Homo sapiens: one gene and its partner. The protein of the gene in region 2 binds, or shares a complex with, the protein of the main gene of each other region. Each region holds a gene or a part of one and is shown on either strand. Other genes may lie near its edges. The genes, in order: EXOSC5 and EXOSC8.

What was found.
Region 1: EXOSC8 (region 2) and EXOSC5 share a complex: the UniProt entries of both Homo sapiens proteins name them as parts of the RNA exosome core complex.

Annotation. Positions count from the first base shown.
Region 1 is NC_000019.10:41,387,172-41,390,988, forward strand, and holds part of EXOSC5 (exosome complex component RRP46), read right to left. Parts: intron 2,735-3,817; coding exon 2,594-2,734; intron 433-2,593; coding exon 343-432; intron 1-342. UniProt on the Homo sapiens protein: Non-catalytic component of the RNA exosome complex which has 3'->5' exoribonuclease activity and participates in a multitude of cellular RNA processing and degradation events.
Region 2 is NC_000013.11:37,003,469-37,006,949, reverse strand, and holds part of EXOSC8 (exosome complex component RRP43), read right to left. Parts: intron 2,435-3,481; coding exon 2,389-2,434; intron 1,031-2,388; coding exon 925-1,030; intron 836-924; coding exon 790-835; intron 1-789. UniProt on the Homo sapiens protein: Non-catalytic component of the RNA exosome complex which has 3'->5' exoribonuclease activity and participates in a multitude of cellular RNA processing and degradation events.

The DNA of each region.
Region 1 (3,817 bases), on a different chromosome or scaffold from region 2:
TTGCAGACAGTCATGTCCAAGAGTTTCCAGGCTCTGCCCCTTAGCCTGAGACCTGGAATTCCCATGGCTCACCACTCTGAGCTGGGAGCTGGGGGACCATCACATGCCCTCTTCTGACTTCAAACTGAGCTCATCCTCTTTTTGCCTGTGTTATAAATTGGGCTTCCCTTAAACATTTCCGCAAAGGTTTCTGGGTCCACAAAGTTTGAAAACTCCCTTTTTACAAGAAGAAATTTAAGAGGCTCTCCTGAAGCCTCTCAGAATCCAGGGCAGAGTTGGGACAAGACCGTATGTCAGTGGGAAGGAAGGTTCTGGCTTTTCCCCTCATCCCCATGCTGGTACCTCAGTGTCTGAGTAGAGCCCCTTGGTGCTGGACATCAGCAGCTTCCGTTCCACGCTGTCCAGGGCAAAGGTCAGGACTGCCCGGGCCTCCTAGGGACAAGGGGTAGAAGGCGGTGGGGGACCTAGGACCTTCCCCTCAGATAAAATCTCAGCCAGTCCTTTGGCCAGGCACAGTGGCTCATGACCATAATCTCACCACTTTGGGAGGCCAAGGCAGGGCACTGCTTGAGGCCAGAAACTCAAGACCAATCTGGGCAACAGAGGGAGACCCCATCTCAGAAAAAAAAAAAAAAAAAAGGTAGCTGGGTGTGGGGGTGCATGTCTGAGTTCCCAGCTACTCAGGAGGCAGAGGTGGGAGGACTGCTTGAGCCCAGGAGTTTGAAGCTGCAGTGAGCTGTGATCGTACTACACTCCAGCATGGGCGACAGTGAGACCCTGTCTCAACGCTCCCCTTCCCACCACACACTTGCAGCCAGTCCCACTGAGGGGACTCCGGACCCTTGGCCTCCAGGCCTCTCCCTTTCCATAGCCAGGCGCTCACCTATCAAGCATCAAGCGCAGCCATTTTTTGTCTACGCTACCCCTTCCCTACTTCCCTGGGTATAGCCCTCTGCCTTTCCTTTGTAGAACTGTACTCCATGCCCCTTATTCCAACCACGTGGTTCTGACAGGGGCTTCCAAGCTCAGTATTCCTGCCCCAAGGGGCTAGCCATAGTGCCACTCACTTATCTGGTACCTCTCGGCCTCCCAGTCCCCCTTCCATGCTCTGTCCCACAGGGGCTGGAAGCCAGCAAGCTGTATTTCCCAGACTCCCTTACCAGCTAGTTTCCATCAGTAATGAGGTGGGAGAATGGAAGAAAAGCAGCACCCTGGTCCTCATGGACAATGGCAGGTGCTGATGGCTGTGGCTGTGTGACAGCCATGGAGGTGGGGTGGGTTCTGGACCTCAGTGGCCAGGGCAGAAGCAGGACATGCTATGTGCATCCAGAACCAATTGAGATGATGTCTCCAACACGACAGAACAGGAGGTGGCTCGCAGGTTCAGTCCAGGTCTGGGAGGGGTTTCTCATCTCTGGGTGTCACTCCTGCTTCCTTTTTCCTCCTCTAGTTCCTCAACACTGTTGTTACAAAGTCCCTGCATTTAACTCCCTCCATCTGAAACCCTCCAAGTGGTTTCCGTCTTCTTGACTAGAGGGGACCATTATAGCACTGGGCAGAAAACTCAGAATAACTTGAGCTTAGGACACTGCACCTGAGCCGATGAGGAAAACTCTCTTCTCGTTTGCTTTTGAGCCTCCTAGGATGGAAATGGAGCTTAAGGGGTCAGTCCCAGCCTCAGGAAAGGTGCTGGCCAGAAAGAATGAAGCTGATGTGCAGAGAAAGGCAGGGACGAGAAGTGAAGCAAGGACATCCTGATGGTGTTTAAAGTCCTGGTTTTATTTTATTTTATTTTTGAGAGTTTCACTCTTTCATCCAGGCTGGAGTGAAGTGGTGCGATCTCAGCTCACTGTAACCTCCACCCTCCAGGTTTAAGTGATTCTCCTGCCTCAGCCTCCTGAGTAGCTGAGATTACAGATGTGTGCCACCATGCCTAGCTAACCTTTGTATTTTTAGTAGAGACAGGGTTTTGCAATGTTGGCCAGGCTGGTCTTCAACTCCCAGCCTCAGGTGATCTGCCTGCCTCAGACTCCCAAAGTGCTGGCATTACAGGTGTGAGCCACCACACCTGGCCATACATTTCCTTTCTAGTTTATTTATTTATATTTTTTGAGATGGAGTTTCACTCTTATTGCCCAGGCTGGAGTGCAATGGCGCGATCTCGGCTCACCACAACCTCCGCGTCCTGGGTTCAAGCGATTCTCCTGCCTCAGCCTCCTGAGTAGCTGGGATTACAGGCGTGCGCCACCACACCTGGCTAATTTTGTATTTTTAGTAGAGATGGGGTTTCTCCATGTTGGTCAGACTGATCTCGAACTCCCGACCTCAGGTGATCCACCCACCTCAGCCTCCCAAAGTGCTGGGATTACAGGCGTGAGCCACCGCTCCCGGCCCCACATTTCCTTCCTAATTAAGCAAGTCTGAGCTGGGTTTCCAGCACTTGCTGCTAAATGAACCATGATGATTAGAGCAGCCCTTGCTAAGTGGGATTGAGGTGGCATGAGCCGACTGTCTGTAGAGAAGCGAGGCCTGGAGGAAGGGACGGGCAGCTGTCTGGCCTCTGCCCTTCAGCCACCCTGGTCTTCACACCTACCTTTTCTTGCTTGGATGTAGGATCCAGCACGAGGGTCCCATCAGAGTCCAGGGCGCAGGCGACCCCACAGAAGAGAGCCCGCATGGGCACACCTGCATCCACCAATGCCATGCAGGCGGCATTCAGACAACAGGCCAGGAGCTGAGCACCACAGGAAATGGTTAAGTTTCTTTTTTTTTTTTTTGGAGATGGAGTTTCGCTCTTGTTGCCCAGGCTGGAGTGCAATGGTGTGATCTCGGCTCACTGCAACCTCCACCTCCTGGGTTCAAGCAATTCTCCTGCCTCAGCCTCCTGAGTAGCTGGGATTACAGGCACCCACCACCACACCCGGCTAATCTTTGTATTTTTAGTAGAGATGGGGTTTCACTATGTTGGCCAGGCTGGTCTGAAAACTCCTGACCTCAGGTGATCCACCTGCCTCGGCCTCCCAAAGTGCTGGGATTACAGGCATGAGCCACCACGCCCAGCCTAAGAAGTTTCTACTGTAGGCCTGGCCAGCAGAGCAGATCCATGCCTCCCTCCACCAGGCTGATGCCTATGGCAGACATCACTAATCGGTCACAGAAGGGCAGTATGGCAGAGTGGTTAAAAGTGGTCCGGGGATCAAGTAGCCCTGGGTTCCAGACCTAGTTTTGCTCAGCTGTGTGACCTTGAACAAGTGACTTACTCCTTGAGTCTCAATCTCCTCATCTGTTAGATGGGGAATATAATAATATTCAATAGGTATGTACTGAAGTACGTACCACACATTTGTTGGCAAATAGGGTCAGAGAGGGGAAGAAACCTTCCAAAGACACGAGGGGGAGGCACTGGCAAAGCCAGGCCCGAAACTTGGGTAGCAGCCACTCCCCGGTGACAGAGCTGGCAGGGCAATGGAGGAAGAGCCACCTCGCTGCTGCCTGCAGGAAGCTCACAGTGGAAAGAGAGCACAGGTTGGGAGTCAGCTGGCTCTGCCTCAGTTTCCTAATGTGTTTCTTCTCCAGGCCTAGCAGCCAGACAAAGACCACAGCTTTAGTCAACCGGTTCCAGCTCTGCTGCTGATCCTCCACGCCTTCCTCTGGGCTTCACTTTCCACTTCTGTAAAATGGGGTCACAATACCTTCTCTCTCTGCCCATCCATAAAATGTCTGTCCAGTTCAGGGCCACGTTCCAGTAAAGCCTTCTACAGTGTCTAATTCTAGTCCTCAACCTCAACCTCTCGCACCTCAGACATGGAGATCTTAC
Region 2 (3,481 bases):
AAATTAAAGTCTTCTAATGGGTAGAACATGCTATTAGCTTAGACTTAAGAACCACAGAACCCTTGGTTAAACAAGCAAGATAACTTTCAAGGCTCAAAAACCTTAAGAAAATGCTTCACCTTTTTAAAGTTCTATAGAAAACCAGAAGAAAGTGGACAGGTTTTGTGAAAGCTGGCTTTTGATTGCCAGGCTGACAAATGACAAACATGTCCATTTCCCTTAATGGAGCTACAGATGTAGAAGGAATTTCCATTCTCATTGGGAGGTTACAGATAAGGGAGATGGTTTTGAAAGCCCTAGCTAAAATTCAAAATGCACGTTCTCATAATACATGAAATGTTTAAGTTTTACAGTGCTAATGTATCAGTTTATATGATCTAGTAGGAAAGCCTCTCTAGGTTCTAATCAACCTAGTTTTACATTTTCAAATAGACTTTGGAATCTACTGTGTGGATTCACCATAAACATATGTTAACATGATTAATGTTATAATCTGCTATAAGGAATAAAAAATGATTGAACTTTAAAAGTTAAGGGGGAAAAAAATTACTTCAGTTTAAAAGGTAGCTCCCAGACAGGCAGTAAGTTAGTCAAACTTGTTTTTTTATAAACAATATGGTTCATTTAGAGAATTATAGAGTAAGAAATTACTGAATCTCTAAAATCTGTAAGACATCCATATTTAAAGCTACTTTGATTGGTGGTTTTAATTTCCTTGTTCACTTTCCCCCACAAAAAAAAAATCCCTTCAGAATTAATAAGAACTTATAGCTTCTCTATTCCTCTTACCTTTCCTGGAGAAATGCATAAGTCCTCTTTCTGAATTATCTGTGAACTTGATTTAATGACAAAGAGCAAAGTAAATGAAAAGCCCAAAACTATCTGAAAATGAATTGTAATAAAATTTTATCATGGTGCTCTTACTTTTCAATGACATCTGCAATGAACTGGCTAGCCACTTGGGCCTCTTCTCCAGGAGGTCCAGACCGGAATCTCGATGAACACAGGGGTGGTAGATCCACATTAGGAACTGAAAGAAACACTCTGCAGCTATGAACTAAACCTTTTTTTTTTTTTTTTTTTTTTTGAGATGGAGTCTTGCTCTGTTGCCAGGCTGGAGTGCATTGGTGCGATCTCAGCTTACTGCAACCTCTACCTCCCAGGTTCAAGAGATTTCCTTGCCTCAGCCTCCCAAGTAGCTGAGATTACAGGCACACGCCACCACGCCCGGCTAATTTTTTGTATTTTAGTAGACAGGGTTTTACCATATTGGCCAAGATGGTCTCGATCGCCTGACCTCGTGATCCGCCCGCCTCAGCCTCGCAAAGTGCTGAGGTTACAGGTGTGAGCCACCATGCCCGGCCTAAACTTTTCAATTTATGGATTACTGAAGTGTTAAAGGTATTATCAATCCACAGTAAAGGCAACTGTGGCCATGGACAGGCTCTTCTGAGTAGAATACATTGTAACATTATAGTTATATTCTGTTTGGTCTCTCTAAGACTCCCAGCCATGAAATTTCTATTTTTCTGACATTTTTCCCCCATATGCCTTTTTAAAAAATCTATTTTAGACCTCAATTCTAAATCCTTTACGAGTTTTCCTGGTATCTTTCAAAATACCTCAATCTGTAACTGAAGTATATATAGCCCCTCTGCTAACATCCAACTGTTTTTCTCATTTAAAAAAAATGTTGGTTCCTACCATAAAGAACAGATGGTTCCAAGGCAAGAAAAAAATAGCAGTTGTATAAAGCAAAGAATCTTTATGGAAACAAAAGGTGTGCAATGACAGTTCTTTGACTTAAAAAAATTCCATTCTATTTTTTTTTTCTTTTGAAACAGGGTTTCACTCTGTCACTCAGGCTTGAATGCAGTGACACAATTATAGTTCATTGTAGCCTCAACCTCCCAGGCTCAAGCAATCCTCCTGCTTCAGCCTCCCAAGTAGCTGGGACACAGGTGTGCACTGGCACACCCAGCTAACTTGATTTTTTTTGTAGATACGGGGTCTCCTTTGTTTCCCAGGCTGGTCTTGAACTGCTGGGCTGAAGCGATCCTGCTGTCTTGGCCTCCCAAAATCCTGGTATTATAGGTGTGAGTCACCACACCCAGCCAAAATTCTATTTTCTTGGTTAGTAACTTATGAATGTATAAACAAAAATTGAGCAAACAAGTTTGATAAAGGTTAAATTTATGAAATTCTATATCCTGCTATTATGCTATCTTTTACTAACACACGGAAAACTTTTGAGGAATTTGTTTTATTCATAAATATTTCCGAATATTAGGAATAATTTTCTTTACATCAACTTAACTAGGACTTAACTAAAAATTATTAAATGTGTTAAAAGTATTTGTATTAAAATTACAAAACCATTTAACTTACCAACGTATCCTTTATCAGGGGCATCTGTTGATGGTGCTGCAAATTCCTATAGTAGCAAAGAAATGTTTCCTATTGAAAGAAGCTACTGAAAAATTATGAAGACAATTTAGCAATCAGTTATGGAAGGCTCTATCAAATATCAGCTTAGGGAATTGTGTCAGGGCCTCTACGGACATTGGTGCTGATCCTCACAATAGCTCTACAAGATAAGAAGGCACTACAGTACAGTGGACTACACTACAGTGCTGCTCGGCAAGATTACCTGGAGATCTTTTAAAAAATAGTAACTGGGTTTGTGCCCCCAACTACTAGCCAAGAATCTTAATTTGTTCTCCAGATGATAGAGCAAGATTTAGGAACTGCTGCTTTAGTGGTAAAGAGCAAAAGCTCAGCTGGGCGCGGTGGCTCACACCGGTAATCCCAGCACTTTGGGACACAGAGGCGGGCGGATCACCTGAGGTCAGGAGTTTGAGACCAGCCTGGCCAAGATGGCAAAACCCCGTCTCTACTAAAAATACAAAAATTAGCCAGGCATGGTGGCGGGCGCCTGTAATCCCAGCTACTTGGGAGGCTGAGGCAGGAGAATCACTTCAACCCAGGAGACGGAACTTGCAGTGAGCTGACATCGTGCCACTGCACTCCAGCCTGGGCGACAGAGCAAGACTCCGTCTCAAAAAAAAAAAAAAAAGCAAATGCTCTGCAATTACTAAGCCAGTTCAAATGTCAGAGCCATACTTACTGGCTGAGAGACTTCAGGCAAGTTATTTAACCTCTTACCTTAAACTCCTCATCTTGTCAAATGGGAAGAAAATAGTGTCTACTCCTAGGGACTGTTAATAAGGGCCAAATGAGATAGACCTGTTAAATCCCAGGCATAAAACCTGACAAGGAGCAAGTTCTCAAATCTTACTGTTATACATCACTCCAGGTTTACGAAAGAAGAATCTCAACTGAGGTTAAATAACACAGGGTATACTGTAGTCAAAGAAGCACAGGCTTTGGAGTCAGATTTATGTCTAAGTTTTACTTATGAGTCTTATGTACCTGGACAGGTTACTGAAAGTCATCTGTAAAACAGGAGGTGAAGACAAGT